4 linked regions of the Homo sapiens genome follow. The protein of the gene in region 1 purifies or fractionates together with the protein of each later gene. This does not show direct contact. Each region holds a gene or a part of one and is shown in the gene's direction. Other genes may lie near its edges. The genes, in order: CDK13, SPSB3, FKBP5 and TUBA4A.

Region 1 (7,895 bases):
AAGAGCAAGACTTTGTCTCAAAAATAAAAAAAAAAAAAGTTCTGGTAGAAAAGATTTCCTGTGACCTATATCGTCATCAGCATTATATTTTAAGATGCTAATGATTCTACTTATGAGAAATTTTAACAAAACACAGATGAATTGTTCATGTTTGTTTCTCTCAAATTTGTTCATGTAATTAGTAACTTGAAATACTCTTGTTATCTAGTTGAACTTCCAAATATTCATGAATATTTATCTCCTAAGAGGACCTACACATTCTTGTAAAATTAAAGAATAAAAAATATTTGGCCAGGTGCGGTGGCTGACGCCTGTAATCCCAGCACTTTGGGAGGCCGAGGCAGGTGGATCACTTGAGGTCAGGAATTCAAGACCAGCCTGACCAACAGGGTGAAACCCCGTCTCTAAAACAAAAATTAGCCAGGCGTGATGGCGCACATCTGTAATCCCAGCTACTTGGGTGGCTGAGGCAAAAGAATTGCTTGAACCTGGGAGGTGGAGGTTGCAGTGAGCTGAGATCACACCACTGTACTCCAGCTTGGGCAACAGAGACACCCCGTATGAAAAAAAAAAATGTAGTTTGGGGCCAGGACATGAATCTTAAGTTTTTGGAAAAACCAACTCCCCAAAAATCACGAAAATTATTTTAGGACAACATGAAAAATAAGTTTAATGCTAGTACCATCCCTGATCTATTGGTAATGGATGACTGCATCACCGTGTCTGAGGGATTCTGAGGCTACATTTAGGGTGAGCAGGAAGGAGTGCTGCCATTAATTAATGATACCTACCATGGAATGGAATGAGGACATGGGGTCACATGGTAATATTTAGCAACTTAATTTGGCTGTAATATAATTGAAAATAGCAGTGGCTTAAACAAATTATTCCTTTTTTAGTCTAGGGTTGGTTTGAAGGATCCATAATGCCCCCGAGGAGTCACGTCTTTCTATTTTCCTTTCACTTCACCATCCTTAGCCTGTGCTTATTCCTTTGTTGTCATGGGACAGCTGCTCAAACTCCAGTATTGCATTTGAGTTCCAGATGTAGAGAAAAGTAAGAAGTAAGAGTGAGGGGCAGAAGGTACAGGTCAGCGAAACTGACCTTCCTTTTTTTTTTTGAGATGGAGTTTCGCTCTCGTTGCCCAGGGTGGAGTGCAATGGTGCACTCTGGGCTCACCGCAGCCTCTGCAACCTCTGCCTCCCGGGTTCAAGCGATTCTCCTGCCTCAGCCTCCCGAGTAGCTGGGATTACAGGCATGCGCCACCACACTGGGCTAATTTTGCATTTTTAGTAGAGACGGGGTTTCTCCATGTTGGTCATGGCTGGTCTTGAACTCCCGACTTCAGGTGATCTGCCCGCCTCGACCTCCCAAAGTGCTGGAATTATAGGCGTGAGCCACCGGGCCCGGCCCTGACCTTCCATTTTTTAAGAATCATTTCCATAAGCTTCGCCCAACAACTTCCACTTCACTTCATTGGCAGGAGCCAATGATCACGTCTTATCTGCAAGGAATACTGGGAGATGTAGTTTTTAGCTAGGCACATTTACCCCCATCAAACCCAGGATACTGTTACTTAGGTAATCAAGGGAAAATCCATTTAGGAAGACAGCTAGAAGTTTACTCCACCATTACTGTTTTATAAATACGTATCCCTCAGCTTTACTGAACCAGCAAGAATTCCCACTCCCCAGCACATAGAAGCAATATTGCACTTCTGAAAAAAAAGTGCTAACACTGTGGGCCTCTGAACTGCATAAAAGATGAGTCTGGGGCCTGGTGCAGTGGCTCACGCCTGTCATCCCAGCACTTTGGGAGGCCGAGGCGGGCGGATCACCTGAGGTCAGGAGTTTGAGACCAGCCTGCTCAACATGACAAAACCCCGTTTCTACTAAAAATACAAAAAAATTAGCTCGGCATGGTGGCGGGCAACTGTAATCCCAGCTACACGGGAGGCTGAGGCAGGAGAATCGCTTGAACCTGGGGGGCGGAGGTTGCAGTAAGCCAAGATTGCACCCCTGCACTCCAGCCTAGGCGACAAGAGCAAAACTCTGTCTCAAAAAAAACAAAAACAAAAACAAAACAAAACACGAACTCCCCACCCCCCCACACACAAGCAGTAATAAACAAAAATATAGTCGTAAATGGGAATTTCAAATCTCTTTAATATTCAGGCAAGCAGACAGGCTTATAGAAACAGACGGCTTCTAATTCAAAGGTCCTTCCCATTTTTTGGAGTTTGAATCCTATTAGTTATTAGTGTTTCCAACCACGTGGGCAGGTATCTTGAGCTCAAAATGTTCATTCAACCTCCCCCACCAAAGGTAGAATCTTTGAGGAAACGTGGGTGGTAGAACCACAGTAAAAATATTTTAGTACATGTTTTTTGTTTGCACCCTGGATTGGGAACTATCCATTTACTTTTTTTCCCTTCTTCTCCATTTAATACACTTACACATGGGAATTATCCATTTACTATGGATCAAGTTTTCTTTGAAAATATATGATAGAAGATGACATTCTCAAGTGGAACTGGTTGTACACGAGGGGAGCTGCAAGCTAAACCTCTTATTTGCTCTCTTTGTTCTGTTATTCCAGTCTATCTAACGTAGGACGATGGAACAAGTTGATCCTACATGTTTCTGAAAAAGCCACTTGCTAAACAGTCTTTGGTAGGAGGCTGGCTACAGGACCTTCACTCAACAATACTGTCAACCAGAAATTTGTTTTAGGAACCCTGCCCCCTATTTTTCTATTCAGTTTCCCAATGCCCATCCCATGGTGTTGCCCACCCAGGCCTGCCCTCCTGGGAAATGCTCTGACTTTAAGATTACCTATTCCTTTGCCTCCTCCTTTATCCTTCAGCAAACCAACATCCTTTGTACTCGGTCAGTGAAGTCTGATCTTAGCTTAAATCAGGCCAGTCTGTGATACTGTGATGTCAAACTGATTAAAATAATTTACACTAAGGTATTAACGATGGATAGATACCAAGTGTTTAAGAACTAAACCAACTGATGATCTGAACAAATGAATTTTCAAAGGGGTTACTACATTTAGTCATTGAACAGACGGCTTAGCTTTTTCTTTTATTAGAGGCAGGGCCTCGCCCTGCTGATTGGCCAGGCTGGGGTGCTGTGGCACGGTCATGGCTCACTCCAGCCTCGAACTCTTGAGCTCCAGAGATCCTCCTGCCTCAGCCTCCGGAGTAGCTGGGACTACAGGCGTGTGCCACTGCACAGGGTTAGCTTGCGTTTCCAACCATTCTAAAAGCCAATAAGCCATTTACATTTTAATCTAATTATCCCGAGTGCTTAGTCTGTAACTGAAGGGCAATTCTAAGGCAAGAAATGAGATGTGAGGTCACTATATGGCTATGTTTGGCAACCCCAAAGGTTTAGATATGAAGGTGAAAGTGGGTGAAGTACTAAGAGGGCAGTCCTCATTCGCACAAGATGTTTTTATTTCAAGCCTCCTGAGAATTTGGAATTTTCAGTAGTTCCTTTTAACATTCCACTTATTTCCTGTATTGATTTAAAGCTTTAAAAATTTTTATTTTAAAGTAAATAGTGTTACCGAAGCTTGAGCTGTGATTCCCAAGTGTGTTTTTTAGGATAAGAAGGGGCCTCGCGGAAGTTGCGGTGAGCCGAGATCGCACCATTGCACTCCAGCCTGGGCAACGAGAGCGAAACTCAGTCTCAAAAAAAAAAAAAAAAAAAATGGGGCCTCGAACTTTGGCGTACGTGAGACAAGTTAAACCAACGCCATCTCCACCCTGTTTTGCGGGGTGTTTTCTCTCCTTTCGCAGCTGTTCCACTCCCAGGGCTTGACTGAAGGTACACGGGGGGTAACTGCCTACTCCAGAAGGCCACCAACAGCATTATTTCCCTCGCAGTCTCCAGAAACACTTGTTCTCACTGTGACCTTTCGCTCAACAGGCAGGCAGTGCGGCGTCTGCAGAGCCGGAACCGGCACTGCGCGCTGGACGCAAGCAACAAGCACGACAGGCGCGCCACCACGGGCAGAGTCTCAAGCAACAGCAGTGGGCGGCACACGAATCCTCTCCTTTCTTTAACCCTTCTTCACACGGAGTCCCACCCTCGCCGGAAGCCGAGCGGTTTCTACATCATGCCACTTCCGGTGCGGCCTGCCGGCCCCTGGCGGGAGCGAGCACGCCAGTGCGCGGTAACTTTGTTCCCGCCTCTCTTGCCCCGGCCACCTCTCATCTTCGGCTTTCTCTGAGCGTGAATTGCGGGCGCGCTCCCGGTCGTACGTCAGGGCTGAGGGGAAAAGCCGAAAGAGCGAGGCGAGAAGGAGGGGTTGTGGAGGTTAGGGCCCAACCAGCAAGTCCCGTTGCTCTCCCTCCTCCTGACGAGGAGCGGAGAGGGAAGGGGAGGAGCGAGCCGGGGCAGGCCGCGCACACCAGGAGCCTCCTCGTGGAGGGGGGGAGCGGAGGAAAGGGGTAGCTCCGCCACCTCTGCTGGCGGCGGCGGCGGCGGCGAAAGAAGAAGAAAGTCAGGGCCCGTACCTACCGCCACAGACTCAGAAACGCCCCTGCCCCCATCTCCCCGGAAATAGCCCCCCGCCCAGCCCCGCACAGTCGCTGCCCCAACCGAGAGCCGCAGCCCGGTCGCCCCCGCCTCGCCCCGCCCCGCTGCCCAGCCCCGCGGGCCGCAGAGTGCGCGAGGCCCTAGGCCGGGAGTTGTTGTCAGGCCCAGGCCACTTCCGAGGCGCCTGCGGTGTGTCGCCGCCACCACAGGAGGACGACGTCGACGCCGAGGAGGAGGCGGTGGAGGCGTGTTGTTGTCTCGCCCACTCCCCTCCCCTGAACTTGCACCCAACGTCAGGGCGCGATGGAGTGAAGCGGCGACGAAGGTGGTACTTCCGCGTTGCGCTGCCCGAGCCGAGAGCGCGGCCAAGGCCGCTCCCCCACCCCCGGGGGCACTTGGAGGACTCGGGACTCCCCCGCAGGTCAGCGCCCGGCGCATCTGGTGTTTTCGCTGCCGAGGATAGGACGACGAGCGCAATCGGGAGCTCCGCCGCCCGGATTCCTGCTTCCCTGGGGCCCGGAGGCTGCTGCGTACCCCACTGTGACCTGGAACCCAGGGACCCGAGTCCCGACCCGGATTATCGTGGCGCTTTTCCCGGCCGGCTCTGGTGCTCGGTGTCCCTCCGCCGCCGCTCCCGTTTCCGGCGGGGGAGATGGCCAGGATCTGACCCGGGAGGAGGCCGCACCCGCGCCGCGCTCTGCGGCTGGCTCTAGGCGATGCCGAGCAGCTCGGACACGGCGCTGGGGGGAGGCGGGGGCCTGAGCTGGGCGGAGAAGAAGTTGGAGGAACGCCGCAAGCGGAGGCGATTCCTGTCCCCTCAGCAGCCGCCGCTGCTGTTGCCGCTCCTGCAGCCGCAGCTCCTGCAACCGCCGCCGCCCCCGCCGCCTCTGCTCTTCCTGGCTGCTCCCGGCACGGCCGCCGCCGCAGCCGCCGCCGCCGCGGCCTCCTCCTCTTGCTTCAGCCCGGGCCCCCCTCTGGAGGTCAAGCGGCTGGCGAGAGGCAAGAGGCGCGCAGGAGGGCGGCAGAAGCGGCGTCGCGGGCCCCGCGCCGGGCAGGAGGCGGAGAAGCGTCGGGTCTTCTCGCTGCCCCAGCCGCAGCAGGACGGCGGTGGCGGTGCTAGTAGCGGCGGGGGTGTGACCCCGCTGGTGGAATACGAGGATGTGAGCTCCCAGTCCGAGCAGGGGCTGCTGCTGGGGGGGGCCAGCGCGGCAACGGCGGCGACGGCTGCCGGGGGAACGGGGGGCAGCGGCGGGAGTCCGGCCTCCTCCTCCGGCACCCAGCGGCGCGGGGAGGGGTCGGAGCGCAGGCCCCGCCGGGACCGCCGCAGCAGCAGTGGCCGCAGCAAGGAGCGCCACCGCGAGCACCGGCGGCGGGATGGGCAGCGCGGTGGCAGCGAGGCCTCCAAGTCCCGCAGCCGCCACAGCCACAGCGGCGAGGAACGGGCCGAGGTCGCCAAGAGCGGCAGCAGCAGCAGCAGCGGCGGCCGCCGGAAAAGCGCTTCGGCCACATCCAGCAGCAGTAGCAGCCGCAAGGACCGGGACTCGAAGGCCCACCGCAGCCGGACTAAGTCGTCCAAGGAGCCGCCTTCGGCCTACAAGGAACCGCCCAAGGCCTACCGGGAGGACAAGACCGAGCCTAAGGCCTACAGGCGGCGGCGGTCCCTCAGCCCACTGGGAGGCCGGGACGACAGCCCGGTGTCCCACAGGGCCTCTCAGAGCCTGAGGAGCCGCAAGTCCCCCAGCCCGGCAGGAGGTGGCAGCAGCCCCTATTCTCGGCGGCTGCCGCGCTCCCCGAGCCCCTACAGTCGCCGCCGCTCCCCCAGCTACAGCCGCCACAGCTCCTACGAGCGGGGCGGCGACGTGTCCCCTAGTCCCTACAGCAGCAGCAGCTGGCGCCGCTCTCGCAGTCCCTACAGCCCTGTGCTCAGGTGAGTTCTGCCGTTCTGCCTGTGTGTGCCTTGGCTGCGCTGGCCAGATCCCCAGGAGGAAGGGAAAGTGGTGCCCGGGTCCTCAGAACGACTCAGGTCCACCACCGAGACGAGACAACACCGCCTGAGCCTCCCAGGAAGGATAGGCGTTTTCGCGCGCGTGACACTTTTTTAGGGGGTCGAAGGGACAAAGCAACTGGGCGAAGGGAACTTTTCTCCTAGCTGTGGCAGGGAAGATTTCTAAGGAAGAATTAAAAGTTTCAGACTTGTTGCATTAATGTGTTAACAGGTTTCTCTCAGTTGCTCTTTGCTTTTCTGGTACAATTTGGGTAAACCTAGAGGTGGTTTAAGTCTTAATTTTGAAAGTTCTGTGAAGAGGTTTCATTGTTGGGAATTTAGGAATGGACTGCAACTTAAGATCTAGTATTGTACAGGGGAATAAGAATCAGGTACTGATGTCAGAGTTAGATGTGGATTGCAGATGTTTCTTATGATTATTACAGAAATGGGAGAAGCAGCCTTTCTGTAAAGTTTATTCTTTTAGTATGTTAAAAAAGCTTAGGTGGAAGCCGATAGTTCTGAATACTGAAGTTAAAAAAGGTATCTATTTAGTGATATTCTTGTGTGGGATAGTTTTTACCTGATCTTTCAAAGTCATAATTATAGAAGGTAGAAAAAATGACAAGACTGTGGTTTCTTTGTTGGTTTGTGATGACACCCAGTTGCTAATAACATTATAAATCTGGGTGGTGTAACCTAGTGTAACCAAGTGAATGGCTGAGTACATTCTTATACTATTATAAGCCTGTAACTGCTTACTTTAAAAGCTAAGTAGACTTTTTCTTAGATATATACCCGAAGGATAAAAACACAATATAACTAGACCTTTAAATATCAGGATCTTTGTCCAGAAATCTTTAAAAGGTGTAATTTAATTTAATGAAATTGGAGTAAAACTTTTCTGTAGCTTTCTTGCCTTTTTTGTTATATAATATTCTTTTTAAAAAGTGTGCCTTAAAATATACTTATCCACTAAGCAAAGTGCATTAAAAACAACTTTCGAGTATTTTATGGGTTCTTATATTCCTTGAGATGTTTGGACATTCCAGACCTTATAGTGTAGAGTATTGCAAAATGACATTTGTATCAGTTTTTCCTCCTGGGTTTCAGTAATGGCAAGTGGATGTACAGTACCTCTAAGTATGGGTTATGTGGAATCTCAACATAATACGAATATGCATCTGCAAAATTAGCAGACCTTTTTGAAGTATCACCATAATAAATGTAAAGGTGTGATGTTTATAGAGATCTGAGCGTGAGTTTGTCTTTAAGCCAAAAAAGTTCTATAAATTGCTTCACTCTTAAAGAGTGTTGAAGCATACTTAAAATGTTAGTTGATACCTTAGCGAAGAATTGAA
Region 2 (7,970 bases), on another chromosome or scaffold:
GGGAGGCCCTGGCCCGCTGCAGGAGTGCAAAGATGGGGCCGGGGCCATTACAGCGTCCCTTTCTGCAGTGTCTGGCCCCTGCCCACAGAGCCCCCGCTGACTCCCCGAGGCCCCAAATCAGAACACGGAGCCAGGACCCTCCAGGCGTCTGTACCCACACATGGGAGCACCCACATTCTCCGTGGTGGATGCCCCACTGGTGCACCCACAGCCTGCGCCTCACTCCCACCAGCCTCTCCCTGCCTTTGGGGGCGTCTAATGCCACCTGCTCCAGAGGCACCAGAACCCCCTCAGCTCTGCCCCTATGACCTGCCACACTGGGGCCTCAGGTCCCTGCATGCCATGGCCAGGGTCTCAGCAGACCCCACTCCCTCTGACCGGGAGTTGGGGACAGCTGTGTGGCAGCACGGACCCAACTGGAGACACACCGCCAGCCTGAGCCCTGTGCCTGGTCGTGGGTGTCATGTGCAGGTCCCCAGGAACAGGCCTGGCTGCTGAAGAGGAACATTTCCACAGGAGAGGCCGGCACGGACGCTAACCCCCTTCACCAGGACGGCGGACGCGCCGCCCGGCCGTTACCGTTTTTCTTGGGGCCTCTCCACACCACGGCCTCGTCCGGCTTCTCCAGCAGGAAGCCCACAGACATGAGCGAGATGCTCTGCTCCCGGTCCAGGAAGACGGGTGCCCAGCCGCGGTCGCACTGGTGCACAGCCCTGCCCTGCGCCCCGAGCATGCGGGGGATACTGGGGCCACACAGGTCCACATCCAGGATTCCCACCTGCAAGGAGCGGCACAGCCTAGGCCGGGGGCACCGCCAGGCCTCCACCGGGATGCGGGCAGCTGCCCGGGGCTCCGCCCAGTGAGGGGTAGGGCGCTCACCTTCTTGCCTGCATGGCGCAGTGCCAGGGCCAGCTCCGTGGAGATGGTGCTTTTCCCAACGCCCCCCTTTCCTGAGAGGACCAGGATGATGTGCCTGACGCCGGCCAGGTTTCCAGGCTCTGGGCGGAAACACGACAGAGAAGGTCAGGGCTCCTGGTGCCCACTGTGCCCACACACGCGGGGTCACCCACTGCCTCTTGCACCCACGTTCTGAGCGGGGCAGTGGTGAATCGCCAGACCCAGAGGCAGCCCGTGCCCCACTTCGCCCCGATGTAAAGACCTCCAGGCAGGTCCCCTGCAGCCCCAGACCCGGGGGGACCCTCTAAGACCACGGCACTCCCTGCACCTGCCTGAGGCGGCGCTGCTGAGAGTGGAAACTGCCCAACTCCTCTCGCTGTGTGGAAGGGTGCATGCGTTCCTTCGTGCGCGTGTGCAAACACACACGTGGGTCACATGATCATGAAACTGCCAGCCCCCTGCTATTTCTAACGGGAACCAGACTCCACTCTTTCCCCAGCCAGTGCACCTGGGCTCGGCAGAGGCAGCAGAGGGCCCAGGGTGGGTGGCAACAACCACGCGTTGTCACACACCAGCGTCCCCGGCTCTCGGTCCCTGCAATGTGCGGTAAGTGAGGGGAGCCGGCTGCTTCCAGCACAGCTCCAGCTCCTCTTCCTTCCAGGGTCCCATCCTGTCCCTGCCACACGGCAGGGGCTGCTGTGTGCAGATACCTTGGCAAAACCCCTGCATTCTCACCCCGGCGCCACCGCTGAGGCCATGCCCCTTGTCTCCAGCAAGCTGCTCCATCCCCGACAGGTCCTTGGAGGGTGCATGTGAGGGGCTCAACACATGATGCGTAAAACCTGCCCCCTTCTGATCCGCCTCTCAAGGGCACGTTCAAAGGCTCCCAAGTCCAAAGCCTCCCGGAGAACCTGGCATGCAGGCGGGTCCTCAGACCTACAGAGGCTGCCTGAGGTCTCCTCCAGGGGACGCGGAAAAGGCAGCCCCAGCCCCACACTCCTGCAAACACAAAGCCCCGAGACCACGGCCTCCCGGTCACCCCTGGGGCAATAAAAGGGGTTCTGACTTAAATTACTTCAACACCAAGAGGTACCAGAAGTGGCCCGTGCAGAGAGGGAGCATGCACTTCTGTAGCTGCCGGGGACTCTGTCAGGCCTGGGTCCTGACTGCCATGCTGCCATCAGTGCTGGCACCAGCGGCAGTGTTAACCCCCAGGGGCTCTCCTCGTTGGCAGAGGTGGGGGAATGGTGCCTGTCTGGTGTGTTGGGCTGAGCACCATGGTAAATGCAGGCCTTAGTGTCAGGAACCGGGACAACAACCCTGAGGGTTCCCCCAAGAACATTTCACTTCTCAGCAAACTGAGGCAGCTCCTAAGCAGATTGTCAGCAAAGCACAGTCAGCATGAGCCTGCCGGGTGGGGCAGTGGGGCTGGAAGTGCAGGAAGGAGGCGAAGCACCATCTCCCCGAGGAAGGCGAGTGCGCTCTCCATGGACAATGAGTCCCGGTCAGCTTTATGGGTTAGCAAATCCAGATCATTCCACGTGGTGGACAAATATATTTTTACAGTAAATGTATATTTTTATTTTGAGAGGGGGTCTCATTCTGTCGCCCAGGCTGGAGTACAGTGGCGCAATCTCGGCTCACTGCAACCTCCGCCTCCTGGGTCCAAGCAATTCTCGTGCCTCAGCCTCCCACGCCTCAGCTTCCAGAGTACCTGGGACCACAGGCGTGCGCCACCATGCCCAGCTAATTTTTTATTTTTTTCGTAGAGACTGTTTCTCTATGTTGGCCATGCTGGTCTCAAATCTGACCTCAAGTGATCTGCCCGCCTCGGCCTCCCAAAGTGCTGGGATTACAGGCATGAGCCAACTTGCCCAGCCTAGGCCTTTTGAATTTTTATGTGCATATTTTCCCCGTTTAAAGAAAGCTTGGGGCCGGGCGCGGTGTCTCACGCCTGTAATCCCAGCACTTTGGGAGGCCGAGGTGGGTGGATCACCTGAGGTCAGGAGTTCGAGACCAGCCTGGCCAACATGGCGAAACCCTGTCTCTACTAAAAATACAAAAAAAATTAGCCAGGCGTGGTGGCGTGTGCCTGTTATCCCAGCTATTTGGGAGGCTGAGGCAGGAGAACTGCTTGAACTTGGGAGGTGGAGATTGCAGTGAGCCGTCATCGAGATTGTGCCACTGCACTCCAGCCTGGGCAACGGAGCGAGTCTCCGTCTCCCCCCAACAAAAAAACGAAAGCTTGGACTAGGTGCAGTGACTCACGCCAGTAATCCCAGCACTCTGAGAGGCCAAAGTGGAAGGATCATTTCGGTCCAGGAGGAGTTCCGCACCACTCTCAATAACGTATTCAGACCCCATGTCTACACATTAAAAATGTAGCCAAGCGGGGTGGTGCATCCTGTGGTCCCAGGTGCTCAGGAGGCTGAGGTGGGAGGGTCGCTTGAGCCCAGGAGGTCAAGGCTGCAGTGAGTTATGATCGTGCCACTGCACTTCAGCCTTGGCGACAGTTAAGACCCTGTCTCAAAAAAAAAAAAAAGCTTCTATCAATCTCAGTAATATCCTTACTTTGTAGTAAATCCGTCCTGATAATAAGGACAGGCTTTTCCAGGCTTCTCCTCTGGAATAAGACTCCAGCACTGGGCCAGGCGCCGTGGCTCACGCCTGTAATCCCAGCACTTTGGGAGGCTGAGACGGGCGGATCACGAGGTCAGGAGATCGAGACCATCCTGGCTAACACGGTGAAACCCCGTCTCTACTAAAAATACAAAAAATTAGCCGGGCGTGGTGGCGGGCGCCTGTAGTCACAGCTACTCGGGAGGCTGCGGCAGGAGAATGGCGTGAACCCGGGAGGCGGAGCTGGCAGTGAGCCGAGACCGCGCCACTGCACTCCAGCCTGGGCGACAGAACGAGACTCCGTCTCAAAAACAAAAGACTCCAGCACTCGGTTTCTAATCTGTCAGAGTTGTGCTGCAAGACCTTGCTGTCCGAGGAATGTTTTCCTTTTGGTATCGGACTCGAGGTCTCTTAGAAGATAAATGCGGCTCCCACTACTCAGGAGGGCCCACGGCGCTGATCTGGCGAACGGATCGTCCCCACTGGTGTGAATTCTGTCCCGCGCAACTTACACTTTTCTGAACACTGAGAGCGCCACTTCCACAAAGAACTTAAAAGCATGTGAGATTCTGGCGTCCGTCTTACTTTCATGACTGCGCGCGTGTGATTTATTTAGAGACAGGGTCTCGCTCTTGCCCGGGCTGCGGTGCAGTTGCAACCGCGACCTCCAGGATAGCGGGGCCCACAGGCGCCACCGCGCCCGCCTACAACGCGGTGCTCAACAAAGTTAACTTTAAAAGCTCCCCCAACTCCACGACTCAGGCCCTCCGAGATCACGGAGCTTCCACATCGAAGCAGGAGCACGCGGGAAACGACCCTGTTTAGAAAATGCCCGCGCCGCGGCCTCTGGCCCGGCCCAGCCACGCCGGCCGGTGATGGTCGCACCGGAGGCGCGCGACGCAGCGAGGCCGCCCCGGGAAGGGACGCGGCGGGGCCCCAAGCGAGGCCCTGGAGCGGCTCCGCACCCTGGCCCGCCACTCACCGGCCGCCGCCTCCATCCCGCCGCCTCCAGGAGCTCGCGGCTGCAGTCCGCTTACGCCCGCGGGCCGTCAGCCTCCCAGCTAGAGCGAAGGGCCTTCCAACCAATGGGCAGTGCGTGCCCGCCCGTGGCTCTTCTTGACAGGCCTAATCCTGCTGTCCCAGCCAATCAGCTTGCCGGAGGAGCTCTCGATCCGGTCCCGCAGGTTCCGGCGCAGACGATGACACGGACCTACTTTCCGGTCAACGCGGCCTGCGGTACCACCTCCCACCCGGGTCCAATGTGCGCGCGAGCTTTGTCTCCAACCGCTTGGGAACTGACCAATAGGAACGTTGGATTAGGACTGACAGTTCCTGAAACCTCTCGGCAATAGCTTTGTCACCCGACTCCCGCCCCCTCTCCCGAAGCTCCGAGACAGGTGTGCCCGCCCCTCGCCGCCGGAGCCAATGGGCGCAGGGGGCGGGGATTGTTTACGTCTCGCTCCGGGGCGGAAAGTGGGTCAGGGCCGGGCCGGCGGAGCGCGCAGCGGGGGCTGCAGGTGAGTGGCGGGGCACGGGCCGACGTCTCGGGCTCTGGGCGGGCGCGCTGACCTTGCGGGCGCGGCGGTAGCAGCGCGGCCAGGGCGCCGCCTTTGTTCCTCTCCGGAGGGCCGCGCCCGAGAGAGGCTTCCCCGGTGCCGCCGACTCCGGAACCCGCGCGCCCGCGGGAGGGAACAGCCAGGCCGGGCTGCCGCCGGGGAGGGCGGCTCCCGCTGCACACGCGCTCGCCTGGGGCTGGGCAGGGTTCGGCGGTCCGGGCGCCGCGATCCGCCCCGGCCTCCCTGGAACCCCACCCGGGGCCCAGCGGGCGTTGCCAGCCGCGAGCCCGGCGCAGGGGTCGGCCCTGGAAGGCTAGGCGGGAACCCCGGAGCTGGCGAGGGAGGTGCCAGGCAGGTGGCCTGGGAAGCGCAGACCTGGCCCTCGCAGCCTTTTGCATTTTATACCATAACAGCGGCCAGCGCTGAGCAGGTTTTAAGATTTGTGTTTCACGAGGAGCCCTGGCGGTAGCGAGCGGAGGGGAAGGCGAGCTGCGCGGCCCAGGAGACGGTGGCGGGAGGAGGATGCAGGCGGGTGCGGCGGTCGGGCCGGGCGTGAGGGGAAGGTGTCGGGGAGCGGTCACGGTGCTTCTGGCATGAGGAACTGGGAGGCCGGAGATGCCATTTGTCAAACCGGACGACAGAGGAGGAGCGAGTGGAGGTTTTAGATGCCTGCGGGACAGGCGGGCGGGGCAGCCAGGTTCGTGAGGTGGAACCGGAGAGAGGGGCTGGGATTCGCATTCCGGAGTCATGGGTGTCTGGGTGGCGTTTCACAGGATCTACCTGGGTTTTATTGAGCTGCTCAGATCCTGGAGTGAGGTACGGGCTCCTGAAGCGTTCTGGAGCCCTGGCTGGGCACCGGTGCGGCCCCTGCAGTCCCCACTTTGAGTGGGTCCGTGGCCCAGCCTGGAAGCTCAGGGCTGGGAGTGCTGTGAGTCTTCCTTTGCCCAGAGCCTGTGTTTTCTTCTAGATTCTTTCCACCATGGCCAGACGCCCCCGGAACAGCAGGGCCTGGCACTTCGTCCTGAGTGCAGCCCGCCGAGACGCAGATGCCCGGGCCGTGGCTCTAGCAGGCTCCACTAACTGGGGCTACGACTCTGATGGGCAGGTAGGTTCCAGCGGGCGAGGCGGACGTGGCTGGCCTAAGGTGTGGAGATGCCCTAGGCAGGCAGGCAGACATTACCTGAACACGGAATCAGTCGGAGAAAAAGATGCTTCTGAGGCTAGAGGACCAGTCCAAACCTGGGCCTGTCTCCTGGATGCACCGCATTCAGTAAGACTCTTTAATTTGGCAAAGGACACACACAGCCTCAGGGGTGACAGGACCTCAGAACACACTGCATTCTTCACTGTGCTTTCTCCTCTGAAACACATGGTGCATGGAGAGGTTGGCAGTTGCTTTTGGTTCATTCAACAGAAATTCTCCACTACGGGGCTGGGCACTGTGGCTCACACCTATAATCCTAGCACTTTGGGAGGCTGAAGCTGGAGGACCACTTGAGCCCAGGAGTTTGAGACCTGCCTGGGCAACATGGTGAAACACTGTCTCTACAAAAATTTAAAAAATGTGTCAGGCGTGGTGGCACGTGCCTGTAGTCCCAACGACTCAGGAGGCTGAGCTGGGAGGATTGCTTGAGCCAGGGAGGTCAAGGCTGCAGTGAGCCGTGATCACACCAGTGCGTTCCAGCCTGGGTGACAGAGCTAGACCCTGACTCAAAAAAAACAAAAACAAAAAAATTCTTTGGTTTACCCAGCCCATTTCTGGAGGTGACCATTGTTAACTTGCTGGTTGTCTTACCAGACGCTTCTTCTGCCAGTACAAACGCATACTCTTTGTTCACATATATGTGTGTTAAAAAACAAACAAACAGAAAAACCCTGATCCTTGAAGGTAAAAATTTCTGCACTTGCTCAGGGAGGCCAGGAACCTGAAGGTATTCAGAACAGCTCAGGTGTTTGTCTGTCTGCAGCCCAGGTGATCTGACATGCTTGTGGGCTTTGCAGGCAGAGCTACCTGCCCCCATGGCCCCTGACCCCCACCTTGGCAGACCCTGAGGGCAGCTGCCTGGCCTGACGGGCGCAGTGAGGCTGGGAGGGGTGGGGGTCCCTGTGGGGGGTGATTTCCCAGTCGGTTTCCTGAGATCTCCCTCGGACCAGAGCAGGAGTGTGGCTGCGCCTCCCTGCCCCACTTCCAGCTACCACAGGTCATGTGCCCTGGAGCAGTCTCTCCTGGCCTCGCAGGGTCATGGCTGTGGGACGCGGGCGTGTCCACAGGCCAGGCCAGTGTCTGACACACGCATGCTGCTTGTCCTCTGTCACCATGGGCCGTGTCCTTCCGGGGCGGCTGCTTGTGTGACCTGGTGCTGCTCTCTGCTGTCACAGCTCCCCTGCGCTGCTGTTCCGGCTCAGCCAGGTGTCCTGGGAGGGGTGGGCTCCTCTCCTCTGAGTGAGGACTCCCTAAGCCCGGTGGGTCCATTAGGCCTTGGGGGCAAATTGGGAAACAGGGTCCTTACCCACCGGGTGGGGGCCGTCCTGAGGTCTCCTGGAGCTCCCTGCTCCAGCCAGGGAGAGGCCCCCACCTGCCTTCCCGCCCGCCTCCAGCTCCTGCAGGTCACATGCCTGAGCCTCACAGGCTCGTGGCTGTGGGATGCAGGCGTGCCTGCGGGCTCGGCAGTGTTCGACACATGTGCTGCTTGTCCTGTGTCACCAAATGGGCCTGCAGTCTGTTGTGGGCAGGAGGTAGGCAGTGGCTTCAGTCTTTCTCCTTCTCCAGGGAACCCGGCCCTGGGCCTGCAGTGCAGGTGCTCAGTTCTGTGCCCGGGCTCCTGACTCAGGGGGTCTACCCTGGCTCTGGGGACCCGCACTTCTAGGCAGTGGGGTAGAGTTGTCTGGGCCTGCCTT
Region 3 (7,350 bases), on another chromosome or scaffold:
GTGTGAACCTGGAAGGCGGAGCTTGCAGTGAGCTGAGATCGCGCCACTGCACTCCAGCCTGGGCAACAGAGCCAGGCTCCATCTCAAAAAAAAAAAAAAAAAGAGAGAGAGAAAAGAAAAAGAATAGAATAACCAAATGGAGCTCAATGGTTGGGTTTAAGATGAGATTTTTTTTTTTTTTTTTTTTTTAGCTGAAAAGAGACTGAGTGAGCTGAAAATAGAAGAAACTTATTAGGACAAAGCATAGAAGGATAAAAGACAGAAAATACAGAATAAAGGGATGAAGTAAGAAGGTTGAATGTGTTTCAACTGGAGCCCCAGAAAGAAAGAAGAAAAAGGACAGAAATCGTATTTGAACATATAATGTCTGAGAATTGTTCAAAACTGAGGAAAAACTATTCAAAGGTGATAGGCAGCCGTGAAATGACAGATATCCACTCTACCGTGTATTCTCTTCTTTTTTTTTTTTTTTTTTGAGACAGAGTCTCACTCTGTCACCCAGGCTGGAGTGCAGTGGTGCAATCTTGGCTCACTGCAACTTCCACCGTCTGGGTTCAGGCAATTCTCATGCCTCAGCCTCCCAAGTAGCAGGGACTACAGGCGCACGCCCAGCTAATTTTTGTATTTTTAGTAGAGACAGGGTTTCACCATGTTGGCCAGGCTGGTCTCGAACTCCTGACCTCAGGTGATCCGCCCACCTCAGCCTCCCAAAGTGCTGGGATTATAGGCATGAACCACCACGCCTGGCATACTCTGACTCTCAAAAACCTTAATGTACAAAGCTGCCTTTAAAAGGATTCTGAAACCAAGATGAAGGTAGCTCGGTAGTAGTTGGAACAGGGCTTGCCTGGGCTGAGTTCAAGTACAAGCTCTGCTACTTCCTAGCTGTGCCACCTGGAGAAAGTTGCCAAACTTCAATTTTTTCAAGTAATAAATGAAAATAAAGAGTAACACTGGCCTACCCCATTGTGAGAATCAAATGATAAGTTCGGGCAAGGTGGCTCACACCTGCAATCTTGACAGTTTAGGAGGCCAAGGTGGGAGGGTCTCTTGAGCCCAGCGGTTCCAGGCCAGCCTGGGTAATAGAGTGAGCCCTTGTCTCTAAAAGAAAAAGGAAGACAGAAAAAGAGAATCAAATGATAAAATGCATGTGAATGAGTCTAGTGAATGCGAAGTGCTTTTAAAATGAGATGTGGTTTGAGCAGTTCCACAAGCATGCCCAGGGTCACTACCAGTGACAGGCAGGACTGGCCATATAATTTGCAGGGCCCAGTGAAAAATGAGAGTGCAGGGCCCTTTGTTGAGAAAGTACTAAGAATTTCAAGACGGCGGCAGCAGAGCATTAGACCCAGCACAGGGCTCTTCTAAGTACACGGCCCTGTGTACTACACAGGTCACATACCCATGGAACTGGTCTTAGGTACAGACCCTGCAAAGAACCGTACTGTGCCTTAGGAAAGGGCTGCTCATCCCACATCCAGGTATCTGCAGCCATAGCGCATGTCATCTTTGAATTCTGAAGGGCAGTAATGTTTAGGGAAAATGCAAGCACATGTGTTTCCAAATGCCAAGGAAGGCAAGTGCAGTGATCAGAGTGGTTTTCTGGGAGAGTGGGTGGGGCTAGCAAGGCTGCCATCGGAACTGTGGAACTGACTGTTCTCCACAGACTCTGGCCTAGAAAAAAAAAGAACCGTGTAGCTGTATCTACAGGGCCTGTTGTTGTTGCTGCGGTGTATTACAACACAGCCTGGCAGCCTCCCCTGCCTTTCTGTCTTCCTCCTGGAAGAGCCTGGTCCCAGACATGTGACACGTCCACACAGCCCTCTGCAGATTTGCCCACACTGCTCCTCACTGTTCCCTCAATTATTAGGCTTTTCCAGGTCTGCATGCTTTTTGCTCACGCTGTCCCCTCCTGCCTGGGAGTCCCTTTCCCCCTTGTCCACACCCCTCTGTCTGGCAAACACCTACTTCATCTTCTAAGATTCAGCTCTACTGTCAGGTGACCTCTTCAATGACGCCTTCCCTGCCTCTCGTAGGAAGAGCTGATTCCTCTTTCCTTGGCGCCTTCCATTGTGCCCTATGCAGACATCTGTCACAACCCCTGTAACATGAAGAGGAGAACTGACATGTTACGTGTATGTCACTGTCTCCTAATGAAGCCCTTGAGGGTTGGGACATATATACCCTGATAGCATAGAGCTTAATATGTGCTGTTATTTTTATTTTATTTTATTTTATTTATTTATTATTATTTTTTTTGAGATGGAGTTTTGCTCTTGTTGCCCAGGCTGGAGTGCAATGGTGCCATCTCGGCTCACTGCAACCTCCGCCTCCCGGGTTCAAGCGATTCTTCTGCCTCAGCCTCCCGAGTAGCTGGGATTACAGGCATGCGTCACCATGCCTGGCTAATTTCGTATTTTTAGTAAAGATGGGGTTTCTCCATGTTGGTCAGGCTGGTCTCGAACTCCCGACCTCAGGTGATCCGCCCACCTCTGTCTTCCAAAGTGCTAGGATTACAGGTGTGAACCACTGTGCCCTGCCTAATATGTGCTATTATTAAGCATAGTAGATGCTTAATCAATTGGTATTAGTATGCAGAGGAATTTTGATCAACTTTGTTTTTCTGCGTTAATGAACAAATACATTGTTTCAGTGACTCCCCTCGGCAACTGGTAAACAGGGAAGCTTCTAGGCACTGAGGACAGACAAATGACTGAGACAGAACCCCTGCCCTCGAGGCGGTTTCAGTCTTGGCTTTATTTGTCTTTTCTGCAGACATCATCACCCTTTTTTTTTTTTTAGAATGGAGTCTCGCTCTTGTTGCCCAGGCTGGAGTGCAATGGTGCGATCTCGGCTCACTGCAACCTCTGTTCAAGCAATTCTCCTGCCTCAGCCTCCTGAATAGCTGGGATTACAGGCATGCGCCACCATGCCCGGCTAATTTTTTAAAATTATTTTTAGTAGAGACGGGGTTTCTCCATGTTGGTCAGGCTCGTCTCGAACTCCCGACCTCAGGTGATCCGCCCATCTCGGCCTCCCAAAGTGCTGGGATTACAGGCGTAAGCCACCGCGCCCGGCGCCCAGGCATCATCTCTTGAAGGCAGCATGGCGATTTCTGGACGAGGCTCTTCATAAATGTTTGAATGCAGTATAGTGCAAAGAGAGCAGGTTTGGAGCCAGGAGACATGAGTTCTAATCTGGCTATGGGATATTAGGTTTCCATAGGTAACTATTAGGTCCCACGTGTAACTAGCTATGGGACATCAGGTTTCTGTTTCCTTAAAAATGAGAGAGTTGATTAGAGATTCCCTAAGGCCCAGGTGCAGCTCCTGCATCTCTATGGGAGTAACTCAGAGGTAGCCATCTGGTTGGCAGTCTACCTTTCGGAGTTGGCGGAAGAACTCAGCCGTTTTGTTTTTGTTTTTGTTTTGAGATGGAGTCTTGCTCTGTCACCAGGCTGGAGTGCAGTGGCGTGATCTCGACTCACTACAACCTCTGCCTCCCAGGTTCAAGCGATTCTCCTACCTCAGCCTCCCGAGTAGCTGGGACGGCGCGCGCCACCAAGCCCAGCTAATTTTTGTATTTTTAGTAGAGACGGGGTTTCACCATGTTGGCTAGGATGGTCTCGATCTCTTGACCTCGTGGTCCGCCCACCTCGGCCTTCCAAAGTGCTGGGATTACAGGCGTGAGCCACCCCACCTGGCCGAACTCAGCCGTAAGGCCTCTTCCTGTTTTAATCTCCTGGGATCTCCTGCTTGAAAGGTAGCAAGCCAAGAGAAAGTATGGTCTTTACAGTCACTGGGTGTCCAGAGGGAGGTGATATCTGCTAAATTGGTTCTCGAGGTGGGATTTCCCCAGTCCCGACTGGGCATCTTAGACTTAATGGGGTTGCTTCCTAGGGCTAACCTGGCCAGCTGACCTAACAAACAGCCTGGCCTGCCCCTCTCCGGCCTCTAGGTAGGCCCTGTGGACAGATAGGAGGGGCAGTGCCTTCAGAGAGACGATACAGATGGGAAGTCAACTAGCTTGCTTAGGCATTAATTTCTCGGGAGGTAAGAGATGTGAGGGGGTGTCAGTTTCCACCATCCCTTCTCTATGGCCCCCACAAAGGGCAAGGGCCAGACACGTGGGCTGGCGTGGGGAGGTGGAGGAGCAAATGATGGGGGCGGGGCCTCATTTGCATGGACGGCGCGCGGCCACCAATCCGGACAGGCGGATCGACAGCCCGCGCGCCTTTTGGGGGCGGACTGACAGCCCCGGGGCCCTATGGAAGGCGGGTCCTGCGGCCGGCTGGGGCGGGACGGCGCCGGGCGCTGCCCCGGGGATTCGGGCCGGCTCGCGGGCGCTGCCAGTCTCGGGCGGCGGTGTCCGGCGCGCGGGCGGCCTGCTGGGCGGGCTGAAGGGTTAGCGGAGCACGGGCAAGGCGGAGAGTGACGGAGTCGGCGAGCCCCCGCGGCGACAGGTACCGGCGCCATGGCCACGGAGATGGGGCGGCCGGCCGCGGCGCCCCGGGAGCCGAACGCCCTCCTTCCAGGTCCCGCCGCGGTCGCACTCGCTGCCTCAGCTCCCACCCCCACGCGGCTTCGCAGCCCAGGAGCCGCGTGTCGCGGGGGAGCGGGGTCCGGAAGCCTCGAGGGGAGCGCGCGGGAGGCCTCGGCCCCACTGCGGCGCCCCTCGCCGCGCCCCAGGGGCCGCGGGGCCGGTGCTCCCCGCGGGAGGCGCGGAGACTAGTGACCGCGGGCGCCGCTCTCCGCCCCCGCCGGCCTCTCCCGGCAGAGGCGAGGCGGGTCGCGCCCGCCCGTCCTCACTGGGCTTTTGTTTCCCGCCCGGGATGACAGGTCCCGCTCCGCCTCCGGTCTCTGGCCCCCGGCTCTCCCCGGACAGGCGGCCGGACCCTCAGCCGGCACCGCTGCGGGCGGGAGCCAAACTTCGCTTTCGGGTCCGGGCGCCGGGACAACCGGACCCCAGGGCGAGCCGAGCGCCGGGACGCCGCGGGCGCGGGGCGGATTCGCCCACCTGGCGGGGCTGTGAAGGGGATGGTGGCGGGGTGGCCGCGCTCCGGGTGTGGACGGGCGGTCCCCGCCTTCACCTGCCGCCTCGGGACAAGCGTTGGGGAACCGCATCGCCGCTGTCGGCCGCTTGTGGAGGAGTCCGCGCAGCGCCGTCTAACAGGTGATCCGCGTCACTCCCAGGCCATACCGAAGCGGCTGAACGCTGTGCCAGGGCTCCTTATGCTCTTCTGTTCTGGGACGTGAAAACGTCTTCCGCCTTATTGGTCGTCCAAAAAGGTGCACCGGTCACAGTATAAGAGTCAAAAACCAGTATTACCAAAAAGACACTACGAGCGTCAGGGTGCAGAGTGGCTTTCTTCGATTAACGAACCGGCAGGACCATCGTAGTCTCTAAAATCGGGTTCTGCAGTGGTGGCGAAAGCGTAGTAAGTTTCAAGTTGTAAGCGGAGATGCAGAATTGTAGATACCCTTCAGTGTGGTTCAGGACAGTGTGTTCAGCGTTTGGCCGCCGTTCAGTAAATTCTGCATGAAGCAGTTTGAGCTCGTGGTTTTGGATTTACTTTTCAGGAGTATGTTTTCCAGTGGAATAAGGCTTACTACTGAATGGGAGCTTTCTTTGCCTCTCTGAGTGTAGACAGGAGTGTTTATTTTCATTGTCTTCCCATTTTGTTAGATTGTGGACAAGGGAAAAGTTAAAGCATATTTTGGTTAAGTATTTTTAATAGTCTGGGATTCTATCCACCTCCTCCATAAGGGTTTTTACTTTAGAGAATTATAAAGTAATTCTCTAAAGGGAGCTGCTTCTCTTGGTGTTTGAATCAAAAGCCAAGAATCGACTTGAAAAAAATTCTTATTCTGGTGGGAAATTTTTATTGTCATACTTTCACTTCACCATTTTCTGTTTGTCTCTCCCCCAGCTGACCTCTGCCTGACAGTCTGCAATTATGGCCCTGACCAATTTAGAGATTCTATACAAATGACATTTTTAAAACGAGGGTTATTAATACTCATTATTTGTGAGAAACACTTTATTTAGTTACCCAGTTTTTTTCTTCTAATGTGTCTTGGTTGATATCTGTATTAGGTAAGATTTATACTTCGGAGATTAAGTTTAAGTTAAGAACAAAGTTGCTAATCTTGATTTAATTATGCTAGTTTATTATTCATTGAATGGTCATTTTACTTATTTGCCTAGGTAATTACAGTTAGCTAATAGCTGATAAGAGTTCGCCATTGAACCATCAACTCTTCAACCAATAATTGTGACTATTTTAGATTAAAAAGAATATAGTGGTCTTTATTGTTTTATTTCTCCATAACAAGCTATGAGGTCTTTGTATGTTTCTGAGTCTTTAATTCTTTTAGTTATGGGAATTTTGGGTGAATTTCTTTTTTAAAACATATTTTTAATCAGTTCAAATGAAAAACTTAAAATATTGCATTAGGCAACTTATTAAATCTTTAGTTATCTGTTTATTCTTGGAAAATAATGCATATTTTGGGTTCAGTTTAGTTTCCTAAAGGCTTCTCTGCTTAGGATGAATTAGTCTGGAGAGGAAAGAACATCCTGTTTGTATACCTGTAGAAGAAGTTACTGCTGTTAAAAGCTAAGTTGGCTTTTTGATGTTTAGTGTGGATAGGTTGAACAATAATTCATCCTCACGTTCGGAGGGCTTATTCTATGTAAATAGTTGAAAGGAACTGGATAAGACTGTAGCTTCCATTATTTTTTATCATTTATATAATTGCTCTTTAGTGTACTTAAATATATAAAATACTATTAATAATTAGTTGTTTATTGTCCTTATTCTGTGATGATGTATGTATATAAACCACATACAATAAAGTTGCATTTCATAAATTTATTTACATATGTGTATTTTAGTATTTTAACTATAAAAGTTAAAGTTTTATTAACTTTAGGTTTAATTAAAAGCCCATTTTAAAATTTAGTTTTTAGATATTTTAATTACTGATTTTTCTCTACTTTAACTTGTAATAGATGATATCATAAAATTATCAACTACAATTTCAGTTTCAAAAATTAAGCATAAGTTGAATTCTCAAATCCACACAATAAACATTGGGAGTGTTTTTAAAGCCATTTACCCTCAGGTATAACTCCTTTTGAGTTTGGAGGTGATAGTAAGTATTTTTAAATAAATGAAGCTACAGAAAACAAGGGCTTACATTAAAACAACTAATTTTGAGGCTAGATCAAATGCCACTATTATAGACATTAGTTTTGCTTTTTTTTTTTTTTTTTTTTTTGAGATGGCGTTTTGCTCTTGTTGCCCAGGCTGGAGTGCAAGGGCGCAGTCTCGGCTCATTGCAACCT
Region 4 (7,156 bases), on another chromosome or scaffold:
TTGCACTGTGAGCTGAGATCACACTACTGCACTCCAGCCTGGGTGACACAGAGAGACTGTCTCAAAAAAAAAAAAAAAAAAAAAAACACCCAAAATGGGCCAGGTGACTCATGCCTGTAATCTCAGCAGTTTGGGAGGCCAAGGCAGGAGAAGAGCTTATGGCTAGGAGCTCTAGACCAGCTTGGGCAACACAGCAAGACCCCATATCTATAAAATATATATATATAGTGTGTGTATATATATATTTTTTTTTTGAGACAGTTTCGCTCTTGTTGCCCAGGCTGGAGTGCAATGGCACAATCTTGGCTCACCACAACTTCTGCCTCCCTGGTTCAAGCGATTCTCCTGCCTCAGCACTGCAATCCAGCCTGGGCAAGAGAGCAAGATCCTGTCTTCCTGTCTCTTTTTTTTTTTTTTTTTTTTTTTTTGAGACAGTGTCTCTCACTATTGCCCAGGCTGGAGTGCAATGGTGCAATCTTGGCTCACTGCAACATCTGCCTCCCAGGTTCACACGATTCTCCTGCCTCAGCCTCCTGAGTAGCTGGGATTACAGGTGCACACCACCATACCTGGCTAATTTTTTGTATTTTTGGTAGAGACGGGGTTTCACTATGTTGGTCAGGCTGGTCTTGAACTTCTGACCTCGTGATCCACCTGCCTCGGCCTCCCAAAGTGCTGGAATTACATGCCCGGCCAAGATCCTGCCTCAAAAAAAAAAAAAAAAAAAAAGGCTGGGCGCAGTGGCTCACACCTGTAGTCCCAGCATTTTGGGAGGCTGAGGTGGGTGGATCACGAGGTCAGGAGATCGAGACCATCCTGGCTAACACTGTGAAACCCCATCTCTACTAAAAATACAAAATTAGCCAGGAGTGGTGGGACATGCCTGTAGTCCCAGCTACTCGGGAGGCTGAGGCAGGAGAATTGCTTGAACCCGGGAGGTGGAGCTTGCAGTGAGCCGAGATCGCGCCACTGTACTCCAGCCTGGGCAACAGTGAGACTCCATCTTAAAAAAAAAAAAAAAAAAAAGCCAAAATGGGTCTTACAGAACTGAAATGAAGGTGTTGGCCAGGTTGCCTTCCTTCTGGAAATTCTAGGGGAGAATCTATTCCTCGACTTTTCCATCTTCTAGAGGCTGCCCATATTCTTTTACTCATGGCCCCTATCCCTCTTCAAAGCCAACAATCACATCATTCTGACCTCTACTTACTTTTGACCTCTTCTTTATTTTATAATTTTTATTTTTTGGTAGAGACAGGGTCTCACTATGTTGCCCAAGCTGGTCTCAAACTGCCGACCTCAAGTGATCCTCCCACCTCAGCCTCCTAAAGTGTTGGGATTACTGGCATGAGCACTGCACCAGGTCTGACCTCTTCTTTGACTCTGACCCTCCTGCCTCCTTCTTTCACTTATAAGGACCCTTGAAATTACACTGGGCCTACCTGGGATAATCCAGGATCATCTCCCTATCTCAAGATCTTTACCTTAATAACATCTTCAAAGTATTTTGCCATGTAAGGTAACAGTCACAGGTCCTGGAGATGAGGATGTGGACATCTTTATGGGGTAGCATTCTTCTGCCTACCATCTCTGAAGTGAAACAATTCTTCTGACACACACTTAGCAAATGCTTACCAGGTGTGCTAAGCACTATGCTAGGAGCTAGAAACAAAGATGAATAAGACACAGTCCTTACCTCCAATAGTTTGCTATCTATAATATTAAGATGGACATGTACACAAATAACTATAGCATGATGTGCTATATGCACTAAAATAAATGTCACAGCTACTTACACAGTGCCTTGATGTGAATATGTACATCTCTAAATTCATCTGATATTCACAATCTGAAGTTGTTATCCCGGTTTTACAAATGAAGAATCTGCACCTGAAGGTCAAAGAGGTTTAGAGTTTTTCCTAAGATAGCTCAAGTCTCTTACTATGTTCATTCTGCTAGGATAGGAGAGCACAAGGAAAAAGAGGTTCAGGGAGGGTCTGCAACCTACTGCCATGTGTCCTATAGTCACCACGGCTCCTTTCTTTGTAGGGACCATGACCTTATTCCCCAAAGAAGCCTCATTATACGCCCCTGTCAGTTTTCTTTTTATGAATGAGTCTTGTTCTCCCAATCAGATGGCAAGTCTACTGGGAAGAAAGACCTTGTCATATTTCACTATATTCCTTTCCATGCCTTGCCTATTTTGTTGATAGAGAGTTGCCATCACTAGTTCTTTCATGGTATTATGTTGTGTTGTCAGGTGATGGGGGAGGGAGGGGTGAATCCTTTCCAAGTGATGTAGAGCCAGGAAGACAGGTTTCTTAAGATCTGCAAACCAGCAGCACCTGGGGCACTGCCAGATGACTTTCCCCAGTGAAGGGAGACAATTAGAAAATGCAAGGCAGGCTGGGGTGGTTGCTCAGGCCTGTAATCCCAGCACTTTGGGAGGTTGAGGCGGGTGGATCGCTTGAGCTCAGGAGTTCAAGACAAATCTGGACAATATGGCGAGACCTTGTCTCTACTAAAAATACAAAAAATAAGGCCGGGTGTGGGGGCTCACACCTGTAATCCCAGCACTTTGGGAGGCTGAAGCAGGTGGATCATCTAAGGTCAGGAGTTGGAGACCAGCCTGACCAACATGGTGAAACCCCGTCTCTACTAAAAATACAAAAATCATCCAGGCATCCATGCCTGTAATCCCAGCTACTCCAGAGGCTGAGGCAGGAGAATCGCTAGAACCCGCGAGGCAGGTGTTGAGGTGAGCCGAAATCGTGCCATTGCACTCCAGCCTGGGCAACAAGAGCGAAACTCCATCTCAAAAATAGATAAATAAATAAAATAAGCTGGGCATGGTGTTGGTGCACGCCTGTGGTCTCAGCTACTGAGGAGGCTGAGGTGGAAGGATGAGGTAGAAGGATGGCCTTGAGCCGGGAGATGGAGGTTGCAATGAGCTGAGATTGCACCACTGCACTCTAGCCTGGGTGACACAGCAAGACACTGACTCAAAAGAGAGAGAGAGAGAGAGAAAGAGAAAGCAGAAGTAGCTTGAAAAGATGGGGTGGAGAGAACGGAATGAAATGTAGAAAGAAGGGCTTCTGCGGAGACCAGGGGCTGAGTGCTGAGACCATTAAGGTGCGGGTTGCAGATCCTGCTCTTGGGTTAGAGACAGAAGAGACCAAGAGTCAGAATCATCCAAGATATGAGAATCTCGATTTTCTTCTTTTCTCTTCAGAGGCAACAGACATTTTGATAGCTTACAACAATGTTTCCACTATGACATCACTGTCTCCTTTTCACCCACGAAAATGTCAAGGACTCAGTGAGGTTAAGTCACTTGCTCAAGGTCACACAGGGTAGCCTGGAGGAGAATCCAGGTCCTGAGGTCCCCCGGTCAGCGCTCCCGCAGTTCTGGCAGCAGGGGAGTGGGCAGGTGCCCTCAGCGAGGGCATCATAGTGACTGCGCTGATGACAGCGCCACTGACCCGCGGGCGGCCGGCGAGCCGCGGCAGATTCCGGGGTCGGCCCCGGCAGACAGGCTGCGGGGCTCGACTCTGCGGGAGCGCCTAAGGCATTGGCAATCTGGGGCTCAGGCTGTGCAGTTCTGGGTCCTCGGCCGCCCACAGGCGTCGGCGAAAGGCTGCCGCCCCGGCCGGGGACCAGGAAGCGTCAGGCAGCTGGCAAGGGCTCCCCGGGGACGCGCCACAGCCTCACAGCCGGCCCGAGTCTCCTGGGAGGCAGGGCTGGAAGGGCAGGGGTGAAGGCCAGCTGTGGCCGCTTGGGAAGGACCGCCTCGCCTGCTCCCGACCTAAGTCAGAACACCTGGATGACCGGTGCCTCCAGGACGCAGGTGCAGGTGAGACTCGCCCTGCCACAGCACCCTGCATCTCCGCGGAGGCCCTCGGGAGCCCAGCGTGTCTGCTCAAAACGAGGAAAGAATGGTTAAAGCCCGAATCGCGACTCTTAATCCCAGCGGGACAGGTGAGGGACCCCCGCGCAGCTTGGGGAGGGTACCAGGCCAGGCTCCGCCCCTCGGGGGGGCCGCTTACCCTCCCGGGAGGCGTGGCCTGCGGGCCGCCCAGCCTCTAGTGGGCGAGCGGGGAACGCGGGCCCCGCCCCCCCCCCGCCTATAAGGGCGGTGCGGCACTGCAGCTAGCGCAGTTCTCACTGAGACCTGTCACCCCGACTCAACGTGAGACGCACCGCCCGGACTCACCATGGTGAGTGCGGCCCGGCCGGGGTCGCGCCTGTCCCCTAATTGCCCCTCTCCTTTGGGGGACACTTCTTCCAGGCATGCTCGGGGACCTCCACCGGGCGTTCCGGGTCTCCAGGAGGTGCGAGGGTTTTGCATCCTCCCTCCCCAACCCCCTCCTGGTGACTTTGGCCGAGCCGTATAGTTCACCTTCGGTGGCTGGGGTTGGGGCTTGGGGTGGAGTGCGACTCTTCAGTAACAGAGAGGAACCCTTCCTGGCACTCTGCTCCTGCCTTACGAGCATTTGTGTCCCGACTCTGTATGAGAGTCACGCGGGCCCGCGCCCCGTCCTTTCCGCGGGCAAAAGAAGACGGGTTTGGCTGCCCTCTTACATCCCCAGTCCCTGGTCCTCAGCACTGACCGAGCACGTGCTTGGCGCTAGAAGGTGGAAGGGGTCAGGTTACCTGGTGCCGCATCCCCCTTTCCTCTGTGTATGCATTCCAACTATCCACAGAACCACCCCCCCCCCGTGACTCAGCACCCCGCGTCTGAGCTGAGAGGGTTGGTGGGAACGGGGTTCGGCCTCCTGAAGCGAGCTGGCCCTCTCCAGCCGAAGCCCGGGTGCGCGGATGGGCAGAGACAGCTGGCGCTGAGCACTGCGCGGGCCGAGGCCAGGTTGGGGGGAGGGGAGAGAGGTGCATGTAGGGGGTGGTATTTATAGCCCAGGAGCGGGGGCCGAAACCCAATCCCCGCTTTGGGCTGGGAAATAACTGTAAAGACTCCAGAGGGAGAGCGGATGTAGGGCTGGGCTGCAGGATGGCGCCCATCCTGCCCGGGACAAGGCGGGTCACCTCTGGGGCCTCACCGCAGGTTCCACTTCCTTTCTGGGTATTTGGAAACCGTCACCCCGCCATTTCGGTGTGGGAAGAGCGCGCGGGCCCTGCCGGACTTTAGTGCTTTAGGGGTTAATTTCGGGCTGACAGGGACGGAGCCTAAGGCAGTGAGCGCCCCAGTACCCTCAAACCTTATTGCTGGCCCCTGCTGTCTGAGCTTACAAGCATTACCGCCGCTATTTCCGTGCGGGCTGACACGGGAGATGAAAGTGGTGAAGACACCCAGGGTGCGGGGGTGGAGGTGGGGAGAGGAGCCAGATGGGATTGATCCCCAGAGCCAGATGGGATTTAAAGGTGAGGGAGGAGGGCATCCTGATGGCGTGTGGTCAGTTGATGCCAGATTGGATGGCTGAGACACCTCTGCAGCTTACAGGAAAGAAAGAGGGAAAGGGTTCTATGAATTCTAGCTGTTCATACTCAAAGCAAATAATTAATCAAGTGGGGGGGGGGCCTCTAGCTGTAAACCCATACCTCTAGGAAACCTTTTGTCATGTGGAGCCACAGTGCTCACTTGACAGATTCCCCACTGAGAAGTGGGCTAAGAGGTTGGCCTGCATTGCTGGGTGCCTCCAGGTGGGGAGTCCTGTACCTGGGAGCCCGGGCAGGCTGCTACTCTCTTCTCACCTCTGCCCAGCCCCAACCCTCCACTCTTGCCAACTGAGTCATCCTAGCTGGTAGATGATAGGGTGGAAGAGAGACTCGCAAGGTGAGGACTTGTGGATGTGGGGCTCATGCTGTGTCCCCTCTCTCTATCCCTCAGCGTGAATGCATCTCAGTCCACGTGGGGCAGGCAGGTGTCCAGATGGGCAATGCCTGCTGGGAGCTCTATTGCTTGGAACATGGGATTCAGCCTGATGGGCAGATGCCCAGTGACAAGACCATTGGTGGAGGGGACGACTCCTTCACCACCTTCTTCTGTGAAACTGGTGCTGGAAAACACGTACCCCGGGCAGTTTTTGTGGATCTGGAGCCTACGGTCATTGGTGAGAGGAAGTGGGGACAAAATTGAAGGGGGTGGAGCATGACTCAAAGCTTCTCCCTGGAGAGAGAGGGTATTTAGACCAGGCATTCCTAGCCCTGAAAATTCCTAGCCGTACTTGAAGCTGCAGAAGGCAAGCTGATCTGAGACTGGCCTGGGCAGCTGGTCTGGGTTTCTCTCACACTCTGGTATCTCAGGCTGGCAGGAGGATGAGTCCTTCCATGCATCTGGCCACAGCTACCACCCTGGGGGAGGAAGGTCCCTGCTGAGCATAGCTTTGTGGTTTTTGCCCTTCCAGATGAGATCCGAAATGGCCCATACCGACAGCTCTTCCACCCAGAGCAGCTCATCACTGGGAAAGAGGATGCTGCCAACAACTATGCCCGTGGTCACTATACCATTGGCAAGGAGATCATTGACCCAGTGCTGGATCGGATCCGCAAGCTGGTGAGAGTGTGTCTTGGGAGGGAGGGAACTTTTGAGACTGTGCTAATGGTCAGGAATATTTTTTTTCAGATCCTTTCAGGAGGTCATCTCTAACTATACATGGTCTCGAGTGTGGTGCTGCTATGGCATCCTCAGTATTTGCCCTGACTGCTGATGTATCTTACGCTTTATGGAGCCAGGTGATAGAGTCCCTCAGGCCCCTCCCCTACCTAAACTGTTCTTTCTCGTTCTTGCCTTTCAGTCTGACCAGTGCACAGGACTTCAGGGCTTCCTGGTGTTCCACAGCTTTGGTGGGGGCACTGGCTCTGGCTTCACCTCACTCCTGATGGAGCGGCTCTCTGTTGACTATGGCAAGAAATCCAAGCTGGAATTCTCCATCTACCCAGCCCCCCAGGTGTCTACAGCCGTGGTCGAGCCCTACAACTCTATCCTGACCACCCACACCACCCTGGAGCACTCAGACTGTGCCTTCATGGTGGACAACGAAGCAATCTATGACATCTGCCGCCGCAACCTAGACATCGAGCGCCCAACCTACACCAACCTCAATCGCCTCATTAGCCAAATTGTCTCCTCCATCACAGCTTCTCTGCGCTTTGACGGGGCCCTCAATGTGGACCTGACAGAGTTCCAGACCAACCTGGTGCCCTA

The links.
Region 2: the proteins of CDK13 (region 1) and SPSB3 purify together in Homo sapiens (affinity purification with mass spectrometry; 3 studies listed by BioGRID and IntAct, with this or other methods). This does not show direct contact.
Region 3: the proteins of CDK13 (region 1) and FKBP5 purify together in Homo sapiens (affinity purification with mass spectrometry; 4 studies listed by BioGRID and IntAct, with this or other methods). This does not show direct contact.
Region 4: the proteins of CDK13 (region 1) and TUBA4A purify together in Homo sapiens (affinity purification with mass spectrometry; 3 studies listed by BioGRID and IntAct, with this or other methods). This does not show direct contact.

Annotation. Positions count from the first base shown.
Region 1 is NC_000007.14:39,945,376-39,953,270, forward strand, and holds the start of CDK13 (cyclin-dependent kinase 13), read left to right. Parts: upstream 1-4,880; 5' UTR 4,881-5,266; coding exon 5,267-6,477; intron 6,478-7,895. UniProt on the Homo sapiens protein: Cyclin-dependent kinase which displays CTD kinase activity and is required for RNA splicing.
Region 2 is NC_000016.10:1,779,565-1,787,534, reverse strand, and holds the start of SPSB3 (SPRY domain-containing SOCS box protein 3), read left to right. Parts: upstream 1-4,963; 5' UTR 4,964-5,033; exon of another isoform or gene 5,034-5,502; intron 5,503-5,712; exon of another isoform or gene 5,713-5,769; intron 5,770-5,803; exon of another isoform or gene 5,804-5,819; coding exon of another isoform or gene 5,820-5,888; exon of another isoform or gene 5,889-6,039; coding exon of another isoform or gene 6,040-6,051; coding exon 6,052-6,177; coding exon of another isoform or gene 6,178-6,342; exon of another isoform or gene 6,343-7,970. Other genes in the region: cytosolic Fe-S cluster assembly factor NUBP2, read right to left, coding at 580-778, 880-998, 4,499-4,514.
Region 3 is NC_000006.12:35,685,916-35,693,265, reverse strand, and holds the start of FKBP5 (peptidyl-prolyl cis-trans isomerase FKBP5), read left to right. Parts: upstream 1-4,350; 5' UTR 4,351-4,462; exon of another isoform or gene 4,463-4,534; intron 4,535-7,350. UniProt on the Homo sapiens protein: Immunophilin protein with PPIase and co-chaperone activities. Component of unligated steroid receptors heterocomplexes through interaction with heat-shock protein 90 (HSP90).
Region 4 is NC_000002.12:219,250,914-219,258,069, reverse strand, and holds the start of TUBA4A (tubulin alpha-4A chain), read left to right. Parts: upstream 1-4,151; 5' UTR 4,152-4,211; coding exon 4,212-4,214; intron 4,215-4,650; coding exon of another isoform or gene 4,651-4,662; exon of another isoform or gene 4,663-4,827; intron 4,828-5,839; coding exon 5,840-6,062; intron 6,063-6,356; coding exon 6,357-6,505; intron 6,506-6,746; coding exon 6,747-7,156. Other genes in the region: TUBA4B (tubulin-like protein alpha-4B), read right to left, coding at 4,651-4,662. UniProt on the Homo sapiens protein: Tubulin is the major constituent of microtubules, a cylinder consisting of laterally associated linear protofilaments composed of alpha- and beta-tubulin heterodimers.